4 separate regions of the Homo sapiens genome follow, and regions 1, 2 and 4 are each linked to region 3. Evidence: fine-mapped expression QTL. A gene starts in region 3. Each other region holds a variant in brackets. All regions are shown on one strand. Distances are between the middles of the regions. Region 1 overlaps DCLK2 (doublecortin like kinase 2). Region 2 overlaps DCLK2 (doublecortin like kinase 2). Region 3 holds the start of DCLK2 (doublecortin like kinase 2). Region 4 overlaps DCLK2 (doublecortin like kinase 2).

The links. PIP is the estimated chance that this variant, and not a neighbour inherited with it, causes the effect. A credible set is the group of variants that fine-mapping cannot tell apart.
Region 1: its variant is the best candidate, but not a certain one, in a credible set for the expression of DCLK2 in left ventricle (GTEx, PIP 0.81).
Region 2: its variant is the best candidate, but not a certain one, in a credible set for the expression of DCLK2 in whole blood (INTERVAL, PIP 0.52).
Region 4: its variant is the best candidate, but not a certain one, in a credible set for the expression of DCLK2 in tibial nerve (GTEx, PIP 0.65).

The regions. Positions count from the first base shown.
Region 1 is chr4:150,161,947-150,167,097 of GRCh38, reverse strand. All of the region lies in intron 2 of DCLK2 (doublecortin like kinase 2), which reads right to left. Among named protein-coding and RNA genes, the nearest start is that of DCLK2, 86 kb to the right of the region's middle. The variant T/C (reference allele first, on the strand shown) is at 2,376.
Region 2 is chr4:150,121,974-150,127,124 of GRCh38, reverse strand. All of the region lies in intron 2 of DCLK2 (doublecortin like kinase 2), which reads right to left. Among named protein-coding and RNA genes, the nearest start is that of DCLK2, 46 kb to the right of the region's middle. The variant T/CT (reference allele first, on the strand shown) is at 2,701.
Region 3 is chr4:150,075,791-150,080,941 of GRCh38, reverse strand. DCLK2 (doublecortin like kinase 2) reads right to left here and starts at 2,497. Exons shown (of 16, transcript NM_001040260.4): 1 at 1,494-2,497. The coding sequence starts at 1,914.
Region 4 is chr4:150,249,693-150,254,843 of GRCh38, reverse strand. The region is part of intron 15 of DCLK2 (doublecortin like kinase 2); the gene reads right to left. Among named protein-coding and RNA genes, the nearest start is that of DCLK2, 170 kb to the right of the region's middle. The variant C/T (reference allele first, on the strand shown) is at 3,066.

The DNA of each region.
Region 1 (5,151 bases), 86 kb before region 3:
TTCTGATGAGTACAATTTATCTCCTGAATATCAAAGAGAATTACCTCGACCCCACCCCAGTAAGTGCCTCCCAATGAGAATAATGCACCCAGGCGGGCCCAGTGAACTACTCTTTAATCAGTGGCTATTTTACATGATCATAGTTATCATTAGGCAGTGTCCCGCCCACCACTTATCCTTAAGACAAGGAAGATCTCTGAAAAGGAGGCAAGGCTCCCTGCCATTCAGAAGGATCTGAAAAAAGTCAGAAGTGCTGCTTTTTGAGCGTTGTCTCCTAATCAGAAAAGGACCAGCAATCAGCCCAGCAAGCACCCACCTCTTCATGACAGTGCACAAAGATTGCATGAACAAAAAGGACTTAATCACTGCTTGGAGTGCCTTGCTCTAATTACAAACTCAGATAAATTATGCATTAACATTTGCATCTTAGGTAGTCATTTGTCACACAAAGAAAACAGGAAAATGTGTACTCATCACACAAGGCAGCTCCCAGAACTTCACCCCTTCAAAGATAAAACAACAAGGATATACTCGCAATTTCACAAGTAATGAAGAATGCTGGGGACAAGTAGAATATCGGTTTTTGTTTTTTGTACTTTTTTTTGAGACAGGGTCTCACTCTGTCACTCAGGCTGGAGTGCAGTGTCACAATCATAGCTCACCACAGCCTTCATCTCCCAGGCTCAAGTGATCCTCCTAACTCAGCCTTCCAAGTAGCTAGGACCACAGGTGCATGCCACCACACCTGGCTAATTTTTTTAAAAATTTTATGTAGAGATGGGGTCCCGCTATGTTGCTCAGGCTTGTCTTGAACTCCTGCGCTCAGGTAATCCTCCCACCTCAGCCTCCCAAAGTGCTGGGATTACAGGTGTGAGCTACCATTCCTGGCCGTGTTAGATTTTTAAATAACTTCTGTGTTGGTATTAATATCTAAATTACCTCCATTAAATGATTAGAATCCAAACTCGGACACCTGGTGTCTTCTTAGTTTTGTGTGACTACAATAGAACACCACAGTCTGGGTAGTTTATAAAGAAAAGAAATTTATTTCTCACGGTTCTGGAAGCTGGGAAGTCCAAGGGCTTGGCACTGGTGTCTACAGATGGTCATCCCACAGTTGAAGGGGGAAGGTGGAAGTGAACACACAAGACAGAGGCACCAGGCGCCAGACTCACTTTATAACAACTCACTCTCATAACTCACCTACTCCCATAACAATGACAGTCCATTCATGAGGGCTCTGCCCTCATTATCCAATCAGATCTTATTAGGCTCTACCTTTCAACACTGTTGCACTGGGGATTAAGTTTCCAACACATGAACTTTTGGGGGACACATTCAAACCACAGCATCAGGTGAAACAATTAAAATGAACCTAGGTAACACTGTAAATGTAACAAGGTAGCCCTTCCATCAGTTCTAAGCAGAGGACTCACAAACCTAACAATCTAAGGTTTAAGGTTTCTGCTTACTTTTTTATAGGCCAATTTATGTTCTCTTTGAAATAGGTTCTCTCCTCCAGCGATATTCACTATTCCAACCATAAAATGTTTATTGTGTATTCAAGCTAATATGCAGCATGCAGCTGCTTATGGCAACAACTGTGGCTAATATGCTGCACATTTAAAAGCAATCTTTAGCAATTGGAGCAAATTTTCCAATCTAACCAACTTCATGTGGGAAGACAAATCAAAAAAAAAACTCAACCCTGGGCAACCCAATCAGCAGTTATTGTATATAAAATTACCACCCAATTCTTAGCAAACACGCATGGCATTTCTAACAGCTGCCAGATCTATAGAACAGAAACAGTGCTGGTGTACTCAAAGGCAGACAAAGATCAGAAGAAACCACAGAATTAAACACTCCACAGCTCAATGACCACTTTAATTTAATCACAACACCCATAGTCCTCAGCAGTTGTTAAAAGTGTTTTTAAACAAGGAAGTTCCTCTCCCGAAGGTATATTCCATCATTACAGGCATATGGAATGTTCATGCCCTCAGGGAATCTTCTCTAAAGATTATGAATGAATTTGTCTCAGGATGGTTAAACCCATTTATTCACTACAAAATCAGAGATTACTCATGTAAACCAAAACAAGTGTTGTCATAAATTGGTGTGCTCAAAATCTTTAAAAGGAGAACAGTAAGGGTCTTACAGTGTGACAAGAATCAAGATAATTTTTGTTTCACCCTATACAATGATATTGCAACTCCAAATGAATTTTTAGTACTCCAGGAGATATGTTATGGTTAATCTGTACTAATAAAATATAACTGGACTTAATTTTTTTTTTGAGACAGTGTCTCACTCTGTTGCCCAGGCTGGAGTGCAGTGGCACAATCTCAGCTCACTGCAACCTCCACCTCCTG[T/C]GTTCAAGCAATTCTCCTGCCTCAGCCTCCCAAGTAGCTGGGACTACAGGTGTGCACCACCACACCCAGCTAATTTTTATATTTTTAGTAGAGATGGGGTTTCATCATGTTGGCCAGGCTGGTCTCGAACTCTTGACCTCAGGTGATCCACCCACCTCGGCCTCCCAAAGTGCTGGGATTACAGGTGTGAGCCACCACATCCGACCCTTAAAATATTTTTAAACAATATATGTACTTAGCTAATTCATTTATCTACAAATTAACAGCTGTTAATCTATAGACTATCTGGAATTGTTGCAATTTGCTGATGAGCTATAGGCTTTTAATTTGGGAGTAGGGTATGGGGGTAGGGGGGTAAGTAAGTAAACTGAAAATATTCCTTAGAGCAGTGGCTGCACAGTTCAAAAATGCTGATGCCACAGGCCCAACCCAGACCACTTAATCAGACTCTGGGGCATGGGGCCAGGCATCTGTATTTCATCAGTAACAGCCAAAGTCTCTCCAAGGTCATCCTAATTAGCAGCTGGGGTTAAAATCAACTGTCTTAAAGAGACAGACATTATACTCTAACTTCCAAGGAAAACTGAGGGTCAACTTTATATTGCTGGCCTAAAAACCATAAGGAAATGTCAGAAATAAAATGGGCTGTGTTAGGCTGGTGCAGTGGCTTATGCCTATAATTCCAGCACTTTCAGAGGCCAAGGCAGGAGGATGGGCCAGGAGTTTGAGACCAGCCTGGTCAACATAGTGAGATCACAGCTCTACAAAACAAAAAGCAAAACAGATGTTGCAAAGGGTTGGTACTGTCCTTAACCATGGAAAGTAGAAAATAATTATAAATAAAATAACTAACTTCCTAAAATTGGTAAGAACTTTGGTGACTCTTCATCTCAATCATAATCATTCATTTTCTTGAGGTCCAAATGACAATGCAAGACAGCAGCTTTTAGAAATTGAAAAATGTGATACAAATTAAGTGCCTAAAACATATAATCTTGAGCATGCCTGCACAATATAGTAACTGCTTAATAACTAATGTTTACTGAGTTCTTACTGAGTTCTAAAGCCAGAGAGAATATTTTCTAGATAGTATCTTATTTAATTCAGACAACTGAGCTCTATAATTTTCTTCATAGTATAGACAAGGAAATGGGCTCAGAGAGATTAAGTTATATAATGAAATCACACACCATGGGGTGGCGGTTGGGCAAGGATCCTGGGCTTTGAACTCCTCTATAATGTAGTAGTTATTGAAGAAAAAAGGGAATGAATGATATTTAAATGGCTGGTTGGTTTATTTATTTATTTATTTATTTATTTATTTTGAGACGGAGTCTCACTCTGTCACCCAGGCTGGAGTGCAGTGGCAGAGGCTCAGCTCACTACAACCTCTGCCTCCCAGGTCCAAGCGATTCTCCTGCCTTAGCCCCCCAAGTGGCTGGAACTATAGGTGCCTGCCACCACGCCCAGTGAATTTTTGTATTTTTGGTAGAGACAGGGTTTCACCATGTTGGCCAGGCTGGTCTCAAACTCCTGACCTCAGGAGATCTGCCTGTCTCAGCCTCCCAAAGTGCTGGAATTACAGGCGTGAGCCACCGAGCCCAGCCTTAAATGACTGGTTTCAAAAGATAGGACTCCATTTGCTTAGGTACCGCCCTGCAGAATGATTAACCAACTGTCGTTTTGCCAATTTTGGAAGAAAGAAAGATGTGTTGCGCAGTCACAGTCAATTCTCAGTACCAACAATTCGTTAGACAATTCTAATGTCATATTAAATAGTAAGCTAAATGATAAGGCCAGGAGGCAGAATAAGTGAGTGAAAAGAGAAGATCTGTCAAATGTGGGTCTGAGTTATTGTCCTCTATGTTGCAGCTACTTCTAGGTTAAACTTATCAATGTCCCAGGAAGCAAAGAGTACGTACAGCAAGGAAGGCCTTTAAAATAGAAGACTTAGGCTGGGCACAGTGCTCATGCCTAAAATCCCAGCACTTTGGGAGGCTGAGGCAGGAGGATCAGTTGAGTCTAGGAGTTTGAGACCAGCCTGGGCCACAGAGTGAGAGTGCATCTCTATAAAATAAAAAAATTTAAAAATTAAAAAAAATAGAAGACTTAGAAAAAGCTCAGAAACATAATTAAGACATACATTTAATTTGAAATTACATTCAATAAATTAATTTAAAATATCTAGATATTTATTAGGTTAACTAAAATTAACATTCTGATCTTTCACAACATGGGATGGAAATTTTATGAGGAAAGTTATACAAATATATATGGAAGATAATACTACTTAATAAAGTTGGCCCTAAATCCCAATACTTGAAGAGCAGAGGGTCTAAAGTTTCTCCTCTGTCCCTAATAACTCAACTTTAATGTATTAAAAATAAATCAGGCTGGATGCAGTGGCTCATGCCTGTAATCACAGCACTTTGAGAGGCCGAGGTTGGAGGACTGCTTGAGGCCAGGAGTTCAAGACCAGCCTGGGCAACATAGCAAGATCCCATCTCTACAAAAAATGCAAAAAATTAGCCAGGCATGGTGGCGCATGCCTATGGTGCCAGCTATTTGGGAGGCTGAGGTGGGAGGATCATCTGAGCCCAGGAGGTTGAGGCTGCAGTGAGCCATGTTTGTACAACTGCACTCCAGCCTGGGCAACAGGGCAAGACCCTGTTTCAAAATAAGTAAATAAATCAAAACCAATAAACAGACGGTGGTGACATGAAGAAAGTCACAATAAGGTCAGAAATGTTCATGACTCTGCTGAGGTCTGACCAAT
Region 2 (5,151 bases), 46 kb before region 3:
CTTCACCAGTAATGAGATATATTGAGATCATATACCTTCTGTTATGATTCACTGAAAAGGCACAATATAACTTCCTTAGTATTGTTGCCAAAAATGCATAACCACAATGTATTCACAGGGGAATACCAGAGAACCCAAAATTGAAGCAAACGGTACAAAGCAACTAGCCAGAACTCTTCAAAAAGATCATGAGAGACAAAGACAGACAAAGGAACTGTTACAAATTAGAGGCTATTAAGGAGATATGACAAGTAAATCCATGTGGGATCCTGGATTGGATGCTGTACTAAAACAAAGACATTTATGAGACAACTGGCAAAATTCAAATAAGGTCTGTAGATCAGTTAATAGCACCAACTCTGTTGATTTCCTGTTTTAAATAACTACACTATGTTTACAGAAGATATCAGCATTACGGGAGGCTGGATGGAGGGCATATATAATCTCTGTGTACAATTTGTGCAATTTTTGTAAGTCTAAAGTTATTTCAAAATAAAAGCCAAAATATATTTTTTAAAAATTGTAAAGCCCTAAAAAAAGACCTAAAATACATATTACCATCTCCTGAGATATTCTTCCAAATTAAAGCACCAAATTAAAACCTATTACTCCACGGCCTGGAATATCCTTAACAAATCTGTCACCTCCTCTGTGAAGCATTTTTGATGCCTCTACAAAGAGTTAGCTTCCCTTCTTTGACCACAGTCTCTTGCATCACTGCTGGCTATTAATAGACTCACCCTGACTTAAAATTATTATTAGTTCTTGCATTTGTCTTTTCTACTACAATAAGAGTTCCTCAAAATACAGAGACCTTGTCTTACATATCTTTGTTCCTCATGTGTCTCGTAGAGTGCCTACCATAGAATAGGCACAAAATAATAGCTGAATGAATTAATTATTCATTAGCCAAAAAACATTTTCTGTCGTATCTTAGCCCGCTGCTCACAAACACTGTAAGAATGGCTTCTTAGAGGGGCAACTGGCAAAATTCAAAGGTCTGAAGATCAGTTGACTCCTTTGTGAGTCCACTCTCATAGTATCCAAACATGTTGAGACTGCCTAAAATACTGACTTTAATTTATTGCATAACTGTAACAATAAAGGAAATTTTCAGAAAGAAAAGTCATTCACAATCCTATCACTAAGACAAATTATTTTCTTTTTATATTATTTTATAGTATTGTCTACATGCATAACTATTTTTATTGTGGGTTTTTTGTGGTTTTTTTTTGAGACAAAATTTCACTCTGTTGCCCAGGCTGGAGTGTAGTGGCTCGATCTCAGCTCACTGCAACCTCCGCCTCCCGGGTTCAAGTGAGTCTTCTGCCTCAGCCTCCCACGTAGCTGGGATTACAGGTGCATGCCACCACGCCCAGCTAATTTTTTGTATTTTTAGTAGAGATGGGGTTTCACCACGTTGGCCAGGCTGGTCTTGAACTCCTGACTTCAAGTGATCCACCTGCTTCAGCCTCCCAGAGTGCTCGGACTACAAGAGTGAGCCACCGCGCCTGGCCACACATGCATAACTATTTTTAGATAGTCATTTTTAGATAGTTATAAACATAGGGTAGACAATTTTGAATTCAGTTTTCCCACTTACCAAACATTGGCTCAAAATAGTATATAAAACTTTGGAAATGTTTTACTTCTATATCATATTCTTTGAATATCATTGATGGTTGTCACTCTTCATCATTTGAGGGTGAATACAATAAAAGTTCTGGAAAAAGTTTAAGAAGCTAGTCAGAGCCAAGTCTATTGAATAAATAATTATACTACATAACATATTCTGGAAAATAGGAATAATTATAGAGTGGTAAAACTGATTTTTGAATCTTGGAAATGAGCCTTGAGAGCAAATAAAAAAATGTCCAGAGATTCATAAGATAAATGCATCCTGATTATATCCAACATGACAAATCAAAACCAAAGGACAAAAGTTCTTTGAATGTCTCTGTGGCATTCCTTATGTGGGAATACAACCATATACCTACCACAAGATGATCTTGAGAACGACATGACAACATGCATAGTCTGAAACAATACTGCTAGTAAAAACATTGGTGTCTTTCTCATCTCTAATGGCATTTGTCACTGTACCTGTGTGAAACTTGTCTCATAATGGAATTGTGTGTCAGGGGAAATAAATATATTTAAATCAAATTTTAATTTGTATTTTCTGGACTCCAATGCATGCAACCAGCTCCTTGGGGGCACAAATCATACTGACATTTTTCAAGTCTTAAAAGCTCAAGAAGTAATTAAGACATTGATTGGTACTGCCTAGGTGGGAATGCTCTGCAAGAGAAAATCACTTTTAACTTCCAGAAAAACTTTTAAACTTTCATCTTCTGTCTACATGTAAAATTTGGGCTACTGTATTAAGCTGAGAGGCATCTAAGATGTTAAAATTTGGATTAAGTTACTTAAGTGGGCTTTTATAAGTTTCCATTTATGCAACTTTTGGTTTTTGTAAAAACTTTTTAATTTGCATTTTCAAAATGGCATGTGACAGCCATAATATTTTACCACAAAAATATACAATGTAAAAGACTAGGTGTTTAATAAACTTAATGATTCAAAAATGCAACCATGTAACTAACGTCAGCTTCAGTATGCACTGATGCACAGATACTTAAATATCTTCCATAACTCATTCTTAAAATGGCATTTTAATGACTTAGAATGTGGGCAAAC[T/CT]AAAAGAACAATATTTTCAAATATAATCAAATGTCTTTATGTTCACATTATGAGAAGCCTGCCATAAACCACTACAAAACAAAAAAAGAAAATTTTAAATAAAATCTTCTTGAAAGTCTTAAGAGCCTGAAATGCATAAAGAAAAGCGAAATGCTCCTTCTGGGTGGGCGTTGCTTCATCGCTAACAGTCCTCAGGCTCAGAGAATTAAACTTCTGTGGAGGCAAATGTCTAATGACTACAGAGCTTTCCAACACTGTGCTGAGAGTCTGGCAGCTGCATCACACTACAATTAAATGTCCTAAAAATACACAGGGAGAATATTCATGAAAGTTTGTCTTGCTCTTTCAAGTGTGGCGCTCTTCTTTATTTAAAACCAAAAGTATGAGGTTAATTTTTTTTTTTTTGAGACAGGCTGGAGTGCAGTGGTGTGATCTTGGCTGACTGCAACTTCTGCTTCCCAGGCTCAAACGATCCTCCCACCTCAGCCACCCGAGTAGCTGGGACTACAAGCATGTGCTACCACACCCGGCTACTTTTTAATTTTTTGTAGAGATGAGGTCTCACTAATTGCCCAAGCTGGTCTTGAACTCCTGGGCTCAAGCACTCTTCCCGCCCTGGCCTCCCGAAGTGCTGGGATTACAGGCATGAGCCACCACACCCAGTCCAACGTTAATTTTTAAATCTGAAAAACTGCAGAGGGTTACTGAAAAGGCAAACACAGGGATATCTCTGCACTTCACTTTACTGCACTTCACAGACACTGAGCTTTTTACGAATGGAAGTTTCGTGGCAACCCTGTATGAGGCAAGTTCGCTGGCATCATTTTTCCAACGGCCTGTGCTCGCTTCACGTCTGTCATATTTTGATAATTTTCACAATATTTCAGACTGCTTTATTATTATTATAGCCATTAGGGTCATCTGTGATATTTTTTGATGTTACTACTGTAATCATTTTGGTGCGCCAGAAACTGCGCTCATGTAAGACAGCAAACCTAACCTATAAATGTTTGTGTTCTGATTTTTCCACCAACCAGCTGCTCCCTCATCTCTCTCCCTCTCCTTGGGCCTCCCTATTTCCTGAGATGTTACAACAATACTGAAACTAGGCTAACTAATAACACTACAATGGCCTCTAAGTGTTCAAGTGAAAGGAAGAGTCAATCTCTCACTTTAAATCAGAAGCTAGAAATGACCAAGCTTAGTAAAGAAAACATGTCAAAAACCAAGACAGGCCAAAAGCTAGGCTTCTTCCCCCAAACAGTTGAGTTATGAAGGCAAAAGAAAAGCTCTTGGAAATTAAAATTGCTACTTTAGTTATCACATGAATTAAAAGGCATATTGCTGATGTGGAGAATGTTTGGTTGGAAGAGAAGATCAATCCAGCTACAACATTCCCTTGAGCCAAAGCCTAATCCAAAGCAAGGTCCTAATTCTGTTCAATTCTATGAAGGCTGAGAGTGGTGACAAAGCTCTTACCTGATGCGGGCACAGAAGAAATGCTGGAAGCTAGCACAAGTTGGTTCATGAGGTTTAAGGAAAGAAGCCCTTGCTATGACATAAAAGTGTGAGGTGAAGCAGCGAGTACTGATGAAAAAGCTGCAGCAAGTTATCCAGAAGATTCAGCTAAGACAACTGATGAAGGTGTATACATTAAACAACCAATTTTTTAATTATACTTTAAGCTCTGGGATACATGTGCAGAATGTGCAGGTTTGTTACATAGGTATACACGTGCTATGGTGGTTTGCTGCACCTATCAACCCGTCATCCACATTAGGTGTTTCTCCTAATGCTCTCCCTCCCCTAGCCCCCCACCCACTGACAGGCCCTGGTGTGTGATGTTCCCCTCCCTGTGTCCATGTGTTCTTATCGTTCAACTCCCACTTACAAGGGAGAACATGTGGTGTTTAGTTTTCTCTTCCTGTGTTAGTTTGCTGAGAATGATGGTTTCCAGCTTCATCCATGTCCTTGCAAAGGACATGAACTCATACTTTTTTATGGCTGCATAGTATTCCATGGTGTATATGTGCATTTGCTTTATCCAGTCTATCATTGACGGGCATATGGACTGGTTCCAAGTCTTTGCTATTGTGAATAGTGCTGCAATAAACATAGGTGTGCACGTGTCTTTATAGTAGAATGATTTATAATCCTTTGGGTATATACCCAGTAATAGCATATATGCTCTATTGTTGAAATGACAACAAAGGATTTAGAATATTCCATAAACTTAGTTGATAAAGCAGCAGCAGGGCTCGGGAGGAATGACAAATTTTGAAAGAAGTTCTACTGTGGCTAAAATGCTATCAAATAGAGTAAAAGAAGCCAATGCTCATTTACCATTCCCCAAATCCTAAGGCCTTTAAGAATTATAGTAAATCTACTCTACCTGTGCTCTATAAATGGAACAACAAAGTCTGGATGACAGTGCATCTATTTACAGCATGG
Region 3 (5,151 bases):
CAGCTATCCCCTTACCTCCTCAAGAAGCCCTTAAAACCAAAACACACAACTGACAGAATGGGTGAAGTCACAAGCACATACATATGTAGACTGAAGAGACAATTTAATTTTGGCTGGGTCGCGTTCTAGGCAGGGCAGCAAAAACTTCTGACTAAATAGACAAACTCAACGACCTTTAGTTTTCCTCCATGTGGCTCCATTAGCTCAGCAGAGGTGAATCGTAGACGAGAAAGTATATGCTGCAGGCACTGTGAGGCAAGGCATGCTGCCTAAGTTTCCTCATCTATAAAATGGGGATAATGCCTTCAGGACAGAAAAGCATGCTGAGATAATATAAGAAAAACATCTGGCTTGATGTTCAGCTTCCTCTCCCTGCCAAGCTATTGCTATGACTACATGGAATGTGCCATTTGCATTAAGAAAGATGCACAAGAGCGGACTGTATGTAAACACGCAGTCAGCACATACCTGGGTTCTGCCTGGTCTTTCTGGATGTTATTTAGAACTGGAAACAGGTTCTTAACCACTGATAATGCCTTTTCTACCTGAAAAGGATGAGGCATACGTATTGCAGGAATTCAAGGATGACCCAACATCCAGCCAAGCAGTCTCTTTGACCGAGGCATGGTTGACACAGCAGAATTACTAATTTTTAATAAGTCCCCACTGCTGAATCCAATGGCCTCTATCATTCTAATTAGGTACTCTTATTAGAGGATAAGGCTGGAGAGATTGACCTTGATTTACCTTTTTTCCAACCAAATGTGGAAAACCCTTTAGCACGGTGATTGTTAACCAGGGTCCCACATTAGAATCACCTGGGGGGGGGGCTTTTGAGACTCCAGACGCCTAACCCACACCCCAAACCCAACCAATTTAATCAGGATATCTGGGGGTTGGGGGATCAGGGTCCCATATTTTTCGAAGTCCCCAGTGTGATCCAAGATGAAGCCAAGGTTGAGACCTGCTGTCTAGGATCATCCCTCTTCACCTCAAGTAACTTCTGCTGCAAGGCAAACTAGGAAAGCCAACCTAGAGCATTTCACAACCACAGCTTCTGACAGCAGTCACAACAGGACCCCGAATACTGGAACATGACAGGAGCCTGCACCAGGGTCCACACCGAGGGTCCAACAGAGCTTATTAGTAGGGGATTACCCAGCTCCCCATGGGAGAACCATTTTCTCAAACAGTTTGCACTTCAATACAAATAAGTTCAACAATCTTAGGAGATGCCACCAGTGCCTAAATTGGCCTGACCATCAGGAAATTTTTTCCTTCTTTAAGAGACAAACCTCTTGGGAAGGAAAGTCAGTGTGTATGTGGGCACCCCACCGGCCCCCACCCCCAGCCAATCTCTAGAGAAGCAGACAGAAGCATCAATTCCCGTGCGGCTTGGAAAGCACCCCGCGGGCTCCCCGCTGCGCCGGCTCACGCCCACTGCACCTGCCGGCGCTCCGCCGCACCTGCCGTGCGGCGCCCTCCCCTCCTACCTTCCAGCAGCTCGTCCAGGCTGGTGACCTTCCGGCTGCCGTCGATGGTGTAGATAGTGCGGACACCCTGGGGCAGGTTCACGTTGTCCGACAGGGAGCGGGTGAGCTCTATGAGGAGCGCATCGAAGGACCGGAAGCGGTCGCTGGAGATGGCAAACACCAGGCCCTTGAAGTAGCGGTCCCCGTTCCGGTAGAAGCGCGCCTTCTTGGCCTTCTTCTCCGAGCTGAGGGCCTGCAGGGTCCGCGTGCGGTAGAAGCTGCAGTGGGCACTGTGCGCCGGACTGGGGATGAGCCCGTTCCCCTTGGGGCCCGAGCTGCTGCTGCCCCCGGAGGAGCTGGGGGCCCCTCTCCGCGACCCCGGCCGCGGCCTTTTGTCCCGTTCCTCAAAGTGCTCCAGCTCGATACTCCTGGTGCTGGCCATCGCGGCTGCTCCGAGGGCGTCCGCAAAAAGACGTTCCGGGCCGACTAAGGGTGCGAGCGCCGGTGCAGGGACGTCTGACTGCGAGGGCCCTTAACGCGCCGGGACACCTGGCTCTGGCATCCCGCCCTCTCCGCGCAGGTGGGGCCGAGGAGCCGCGGAGGAGCCGACCCGCCCGCGCCCTCAGCTAAAAGTGTCCGCAGCGCCGAGCTGCCCAGGTCATTGTCCAGTGCGACTTGCTCCGTGCCTCCCGCCTGCCGGGGAGCCCCACGCCCCCGCAAGCGCCTCCTCCACCCGGCCACGCCTCACAAGTCCCGCTCGGGAGCCGACCGGGAGAGGCAAAGTTGGGCCGCCCGAGGCTCGCGCTGGGCCCGCGGGCGCCCACAAAGCTCGGGCGTCTGCCGAGCGCTCCCGGGAGCGCCGAGGGGAGGAAGGAAGGAAGGGTGGGGCGGGGCGCGGAGCGTGGGAGAGGCCCCCGGGGGAGTCGCGCGGGCCCAGGCCCGGGGTGCAGCGCCGCCGCCTCGGCCGCGCCCGGATCCCGCCCGCCGGGCAGCGCGCGCCGTTCGGGGCTGAGAGGGCCGTGTCTGGCCCCTTCCTTCCCTGGAGCGCGGCCCTAGCGGGAAATAATGCAGCCCGCCTCCCACGCAGCGGTCAGGCCCGGCCCACTGGCAAGCATCCGCGCTCTGGCCTCCCTCCGCCGCCGACAGGCTGTCAGCGCTGGAGGAGGCTTCCCGGCCCCGGGGATGCCAAACCGCGGAGAAGGGGAGGAGGGGGCGGAGGAGGGGGCGGAGGAGGGGGCCGAGCGCCGGCGCGGGAGGAGCAGCTCCTGCGGGTCCCGGGCAGCCCCGCCCGCCTGACGGCTCCTGCCCGGCGCCGCGCGTTAATGGGCGCAGCCGCGACGCGCGCTCCTCCGCCTGGGAAACGTAACCGCGCAGGCCAAAAACTACAAAGGAAGGAGATTCAAGGGCAGGGAGCACATCCCCAGCCAGCATCCCAGTGAGGACCCCAGGCCAAACTACCGCAGAAATCCGAAGCCCAGCATTGACTTGGGGCACACCATTCATTTTTTTTAAAAAAGATTTGTTGCTTTATTAGAAAATCCTTTGAGAAAACAGCCTCCACTGTTTCCATTGCAGATTCGCTAATATGGTACGTTCAGTAACTTTGAATGAATGATGAGAAGTTATTGGGTGGTAGAGGGGGTTATGTAATCAACGAATATTTATCGAGAGCGTACCATGTGTCAGGCATTGTTTCTGTCACTGGGATGCCCTAACAAAGGAAAGAGAGACTCTGCACCCACTCCCCCCGCCCCGCATATTTAATGTTGTCAATTAAAGCTTCTTACCTAAGAGGCCTATCATTTGTGAGCACCCATCATAGTGGAAATCTTAATGCCGTAGTGTCTATTCAACAATAAAAACATCTTTTCCAAGACTTAAGAGAAATACTAGTTACTTGCATTTTGTTATTAGGAAAAATAAAGCTCAAATATGTTTGATCCCAATTTGGCACGTGAAACCTTAGAACATTCAACACCTGGTTTTCTGAGCAGCCCTAGACAGCAATCCAAACTGACCTTTCAGGAAGAAAGGCATAGTTGCTTTTTTTCGGGTTGAACTGAGTCCTGGAAGAGCATGAATAAAAGAAGGTAGAAGCACATGCAACGGTCTAGCATCTGTGAAGTTGGTGCGCCCCACCAAACACACGCACACACACGCATACACACCCTTCATGGCAGCTCCAGAAAGGTCTCCTGCTCGGTGCACAATACTACTCCTAAGGCAGTTCTGGGCATACACCTGGGCATACCTAACTTCCTGCGGGGTTGGGGCATGCTAGGAAGTCAGAGCTGATCTGAGGCTTCAATGTAGTTTTTCTAGAGGAAAATCCTGCAGCATCATTAGGTCCACCACCTTAAAAGGCCTCAACCTAGATCAGTTAAATCAGAATTTCTGGAGACGGGCTTCTCCAACAGTATTTTTTTAAAAGTACCCCTAAGGTATATCCAGAGTTTCCAACCACAGGCTGTAACACCAGGAATCAAATAAATCAGTGCTTCTTCTCAAACTTTAATATATTTACATGTCATAGGGGAATCTCGTTAAAATGCAGATTGCTATTCTGTAGCTCTGGGGTGGAGTTTGAGATTCTGCATTTCTGATGAGCCCCTGGGTAATGCCAATGCTGCTGGTCTTGGTACAAGACTTTGAGAAACAAGAAACTAAATTGCAAATTTATTGAGATAAGTTTCCATCTAAGTACCAGTAACTCCACAGAGCCCATCAACTTGCCTTAAGATGGCCATGTTCATTTGTATCACTGTTAGTATTTCTTAGGGGGAAAAAGACTTTGTAAACTATTGCTGTAGAAACAAATTATCCTAAACTTAATGATTTACAACAATAAACATGCATAATCTCAGCATTTTTGGCAGATCGGAAATCTGGGAGCAGTTTACCTCAAAGCCTCATGTGATTGCTGTCAAGATGTTGACAGGGGTCACAGCCATCTAAAGGCTTGACTGGGTCAAGAAGATCCATTTCCAAGACAGCCCATTCACATGAATGGTAAGGAGGCCTCAGTTCCTTGTCATGAGTACCTTTCCATAGAGTTGCTTAAGTGTCACCATGACTTGTCGGTTGGCTTCCTCTAGAGCAGGGGTGTCCAATCTTTTGGCTTCCCTGGGGCACATTGGAAGAAGAATTGTCTTGGGCCACACAGGAAATACACTAACATTAATGATGGCTGATGAGCTAAAAAAAAAAAAAAAATCACAAAATCTCATAATATTTTAAGAAAGTTTACGAATTTGCATTGGGCTGCATTCATAACTGTCCTGGGCTGTGTACAGTCCACAGGCCATGGGTTGGACAAGCTTGCTCTAGAGAAAGCATCCAAGAGAGCACAAGGTGGAAGCCACAATGTGTGTTATGATATAGCCTTGGAAGTCATACACTGTTATTCCCACAATATCCTGTAGGTTACACAAGGCAGCCCTGTTTGATGTGGGAGGAGACTACACTAGGGTGTGACTAGGAGTCAGCAATTATTGGGGTCATCTTGCAGACTGGTACCACGGGTTTCAATCTTTCAATCTTTAGAACACTAACATGCACTTCCTCACTCAAAGATCCTTGATAAGAGATTTGGCCCTTCTTAAATAGTGAGTACAATTATACAATATGCCAGTATTTTTAACTCAAGGTGGATTAAAGACTTAAATGTAAAACCCCAAAC
Region 4 (5,151 bases), 170 kb before region 3:
GCCGGGCAAGGTGGCGTGCACCTGTAGTCCTAGCTACTTGGAGGCTGAGGCAGGAGGATGGCTTGAGCTCAGGAGTTTGAGGATACAGTGAGCTAGGATCACACCACCGCACTCCAGTCTGGGCAACAGAGCAAGATCCTGTCTCAATAAACAAAACTCCCCAAATCCCTACAATTTCCAAGGACAATTTCAACTACCTGGAGAAAGGGTAACTGTGGAAAACTCCACTAAAAGATGCTCCCACCTACATGGGAAGCAGAGAGCCAGCATACAGGTTTTTCCTACCACAAAATGTCTCCTGGGTACAAGAAAACAATCCCCCCGTTATTTCTCCTTTTCTCTTCCTGTCAGAAGCACAGGGGCGTGTGTGGCAGAAGGCAGGCTGGCAGTGCGGTTAGTACATACCATGGCCTTGGACCTAGCCAGAGGGAAGCAATGCAGGCGGCGGGAGAGGCAGAAGGCAGGAGAGAAGCAGGGACAGAAACTAGACTTACTTTCAACAGAAGCAACACGAGTGAAACAGTTTTGTCTATCTTAAATTAAGGCAATAAACCCAAATCCTTCCCCAACTTCCCCCTGAAACAAGGCATAATCCCCCAGCGAAGAAGGCAATGCCCTTGAATCCGTCCCTTCTCAAGTCTGCACCGCAGGCGCCGAGTGACGGCGGCTTCTCGGCATTCCCTTCCCACCACAAGATGGTCTCTCCTGGTCTCTGCAACTGGGGCGAGCCCCCCGGGGTACATGGGAGGCCGTCCTGCATGCACCCTGCTCTGTCCTTTCTTACGCATGCTAAGGACAAGTCCAAGAAAATGGGAACTGTAATCCCACACCTCAGCCCTGCCTGAAACCAAGGCCTCACCCATTAAATTATCTTCTCTTATCCCAAAGGCTGGCTGAGATTACACTTACTGATACAAACTCATCTTTGGAAATGCAGCTGGAGAAAGAACAAAAGCCTTCACGAAGGCACCATCTTAAGCTGCTCTTTCCGAAAAGCCACTTTTCACCTAAGTGGGAAACAGCATCGGTAGGAGAACTATGGGACTCCTCCCGTGCTCTCACCAGCTGTTGGTCTGGAAAGGCAGGCAGTGTGGTAAGCTGAGAAGTTTGAAAATAAAGTTTTCCAGGGGCCTGCTTGGCTGGCTGGAAAGGATGTGAGTAGGTACAAAAGACCCACACCAGTAAGCAGCTGAGAGCCGGACGGCGGCATCAGAAACTGAGACAAGCATGCAGGCGTGAGAGGGGCTGAGGATGGGGCGCGCTGGTCGGACGCAGCGTGGTGAATACCAGGATTCTGCTTCAGGCTCTCCCACTGTCTCAGCGGGGTAAAGAAGGAAACTCTGAGGTGCCTCTCAAACTGTCAAATCAAACTGTCAAACAAAATGCAGATAACACCATCAACTTTACTTTTTTTTCACCTTTATGGACCAATTTCTAGCCCATCATTTTCTCACTGAAGTCTCAGGCCCCAGCTCTGGGGATGAGAACACTAGGGTGACAGCAGATGGGAAGGTCCTGTCTGTAAGTTATCTGATGATTCAACCTCCAGACGGTTGACACTATTTCCACTATCATTTGTATCTGCAGAAAACCAGGTTGGCCCCACAGTCTCAGTTATGAGGACCTATGAGTACCAGGGAGAGTCATTTTGAGGTTATTTTTAATGTAAAAACACTTAAAACTGTTCCGAAGACAGGACACACAGTGACGTGAGGAGGATGAGGAGGATGAGGAGGATGAGGAGGACGAGGAGGATGAGGAGGACGAGGAGGACAATACAGCAGCATCGCAAGTTCCCCCACACAACCATGCCCCAGACCAGGTCCTGCGCCAGGGGAGGATCAGCAGCAGGCCTTCCCCTCCCACTTTTTGGGACAGCCCAAAAGTCACAGGCTGGTGTTTTGGCCATCGAGAATGGGTGCCACCAGAGGCAAGACTGATTGAATTTCCCTGTAGGTACTGAATGGGATCATGACATCAGCAGTTCCTCTGAGCTAACAGCCTGCAGAGTTGTGTAGGTAACATGGGGTTAGAGGGGACACCCTGCCAACATGCGCAAAATGACAACTGAACACACATAAACATACAACATTTACAATCACCATCAGAGCTGCAAACAATAACGGGTTGTTTGTTCACACAAACACCCTGTCAGAGCCCAGGGGTTTGTCTTTTGAGTCCTGAACTCCTCATCAGCAAATGGAAAATGGTATTTGTAAACCACACGACATAGGTTCTGTCTGAGGGGGTCTAAGCGTCATTATCTAGGACAGAGCCTGTAGAACAGCTAATCATTCCAGAATGTCAGCTGAGAGCCAGCCATAAAGAGGCCGGGCACAGGCCTATGGCCACTGATTCCTATCTGGGCCCCTGAGTCAAAAAGTGACCCCAGCAATGACTCCCTTCACAGTCTCCGAGCAAACTCTCCTAAGCCCTGGGCACAGGGCGGTTAAAGGTTCTTCCTCTCAGAAGACTTAACATGGTTATTAAATTTTGATCCTAACCAATCTCTCTTCTTAAGGTTTTTTCATGACACGTTGAGTATGCCAATTTTTAATGTTTTATTTTTCTAAATTTTCCAAGAAGCTGCCTTACAACGCAGTGCACAGCAAGACTGTGTACCACTGAGCCCATCCATCAATGCTAGCTCTCGCAAGGGAATCGCTGGAAACATTCTCATGCTGTTGGCTCAATCAAGATGGTTCTTTTCAAAGTGTCTAAGCTGTAATTCTTTGACAACTCTGACTTTCTCAGGCTTTCAGCAAAACACTGCTAAAATTCAAGGGAAACCACAACTCAAAAGGCCTTCTCACTGCTTTGGCACAGAGCGCCCCCAAAGTCCTGCAAGCCATCAAAAGACTCAGCTTGCAAACCCAGGCTCTGTCTGGAGAGGGAGAGAGGGAGAGAGGGAGAGCACACTTTCTGGCAGGGGAGCAGCTGGGGAGTTGCAAGGACACACAGAGGGTGGCCACATAAACGCAGCCGGGGGACAGAAGAGAATGACGGCCCAGTGGGTGCTGAGAACCTGGTGGACGCTCAATCCATATAACAGAGTGCTGCATGCT[C/T]GTGGGGTGTGTGGGGTGTGTGGGGAATGTGGGGTGTGTTCGGGTGTGGGGTGTGTGGGGGTGTTGGGGGTGTGTGGGGGTACCTGGTGTATGCTCAATGCATATAACAGAGTGCTGCACGCTCGTGGGGGCGGGGGGTGTGGGGTGTGTGGAGGTATGTGGGGTGTGTTCGGGTGTGGGGTGTGTAGGCTGTGTGGGCTATGTGGGGGTGTGGGGTGTGTGGGTGTGTATGTGGGGGGTGGGGGTGTGGGGGGTGTGGGGGGTGTGGGTGTGGGGTATGTGGGGGTTATGTGGGGTGTGTTGGGGTGTGGGGTGTGTAGAGTGGGGGGTGTAGGGGATGTGTGGTGCGGGGGATGTGGGTTGTGTGGGGGTGTGGGGGGTGTGAGGTGTGTGGGGATGTGTGGTGTGGAGGGTGTGCGGGATGTGTGGTGTGGGGGATGGGAGTGTGTGGGGGTATGTGGGGGTGTGTGGTGTGGGGGGTGTGAGGGAATGTGTGGTGTGGGGGGTGTGGGGGATGTGTGGGGTGTGGGGGATGTGTGGGGGTGTGGGGGATGTGTGGGGTGTGGGGGATGTGGGTGGTGTGGGGGATTTGGGGGGTGTGGGGGATGTGGGGGGTGTGGGGGATGTGTGGGGGGTGTGGGGGATATGTGTGGTGTGGGGGATGTGTGGTGTGGGGGGTGTGTGGGGGTGTTGGGGGGTGTGAGGGATGTGTGGTGTGGGGGATGTGTGGTGTGGGGGGTGTGAGGGATGTGTGGTGTGGGGGATGTGTGGTGTGGGGGGTGTGAGGGATGTGTGGTGTGGGGGATGTGTGGTGTGGGGGGTGTGAGGGATGTGTGGTGTGGGGGTGTGGAGGATTTGTGGTGTGTGGGGATGTGGGGGGTGTGGGGGGTGTGGGGAGTGTGGGGGATGTTGGGGGTGTGGGGATGTGGGTTATGTGTGTGGCTTCCTTATAGCTTCTATCTAGACCCTGCGTCTTCCTAGGTAAGGCTCTCAGACAACCATGTACCATGAGAATATGCCACTGTTTCCCTTCTAGTTGGGTAGGAAACAAGGAGGACCTTCCCAGAGGATGAGAGGCCTGTCCCAAGTACGAGTGACGGAGCTGTGGAGGTGGCCCATCCTTAGCTGTCAGGACTCAGTGGGGTCACGGGGGGCCCAGATGTGAAACTCAGACGCCCATCACCTTGGCAGGTCTGATTCGAAAGCTGCTGCAGCCAACTCCAGCTCTGGGAAAGGCCACTCCACCCCTGTTCCCTGCTCCTGGGAGTGTGTGGGGAGAACCAAGGTCCCTGCCTGGGTGGCTGGCTGGCTTCTACCTGCTCACGGTGAGCTGGCCTTCCCGCCCAGGGTTGCATTGGCTCAGGCCTGGACAGCTGCTGCGGGTGTGCTGCCCTCACCTCTGGTTCAATGTTTTTTCCTTTTGATTCATTTACTCTCATGTCACTTTTCATTTTAATTTGTTGTGTTTATGTATTTAGGAGAGTTGCCTTAAGAAACATTTTGGAAGAAGAAAAGGCTGAAAAAAATAAGGCCATCGTTGTCACTGACATCTCATAAAATGTTACCAACCCTGAAAAATGAATATATATTTTTTTCCTTGATTATGTACCTTTAAAAGCCCCAAACTGTGTTTTATAAAACACTGATTTTTTAAAACTGAAATATGTTTAGCTTTGGCTGTTTCTTATCCCAAGTCTCAAAGAATAATTCACATCTCTAATAATCTATTTCTGAGGCCTTGGGGTAGGCAGGGAGTTAATTCCTAACACAACACACCCCTCCAGGGCTTGGGAGTCTCTCTAGATGAGAAGGCAGAGACAAGAGTGGAAGCAGCTGCCCAGAGGGCCCAGCCAGGAGCTCCTTGACGCCTGGACCCCTCACACCAGGCCTGCTGGTCCCTACACAAGCCCCTCCACACAGTGCCCAAAGCCTGGGAGTTGCCGAATGAGTGCCCTCCACATGCCAAGCCAATCTTCATATGAAATAGGACTACGGAAGGCACCAACTTCCATGTGAGGGCAGCTCCCGGCTACCTAATTCAAAAACTTCAAGGCCGGCTCCGCAGTCAGGCCAGACCTGCCGCCTT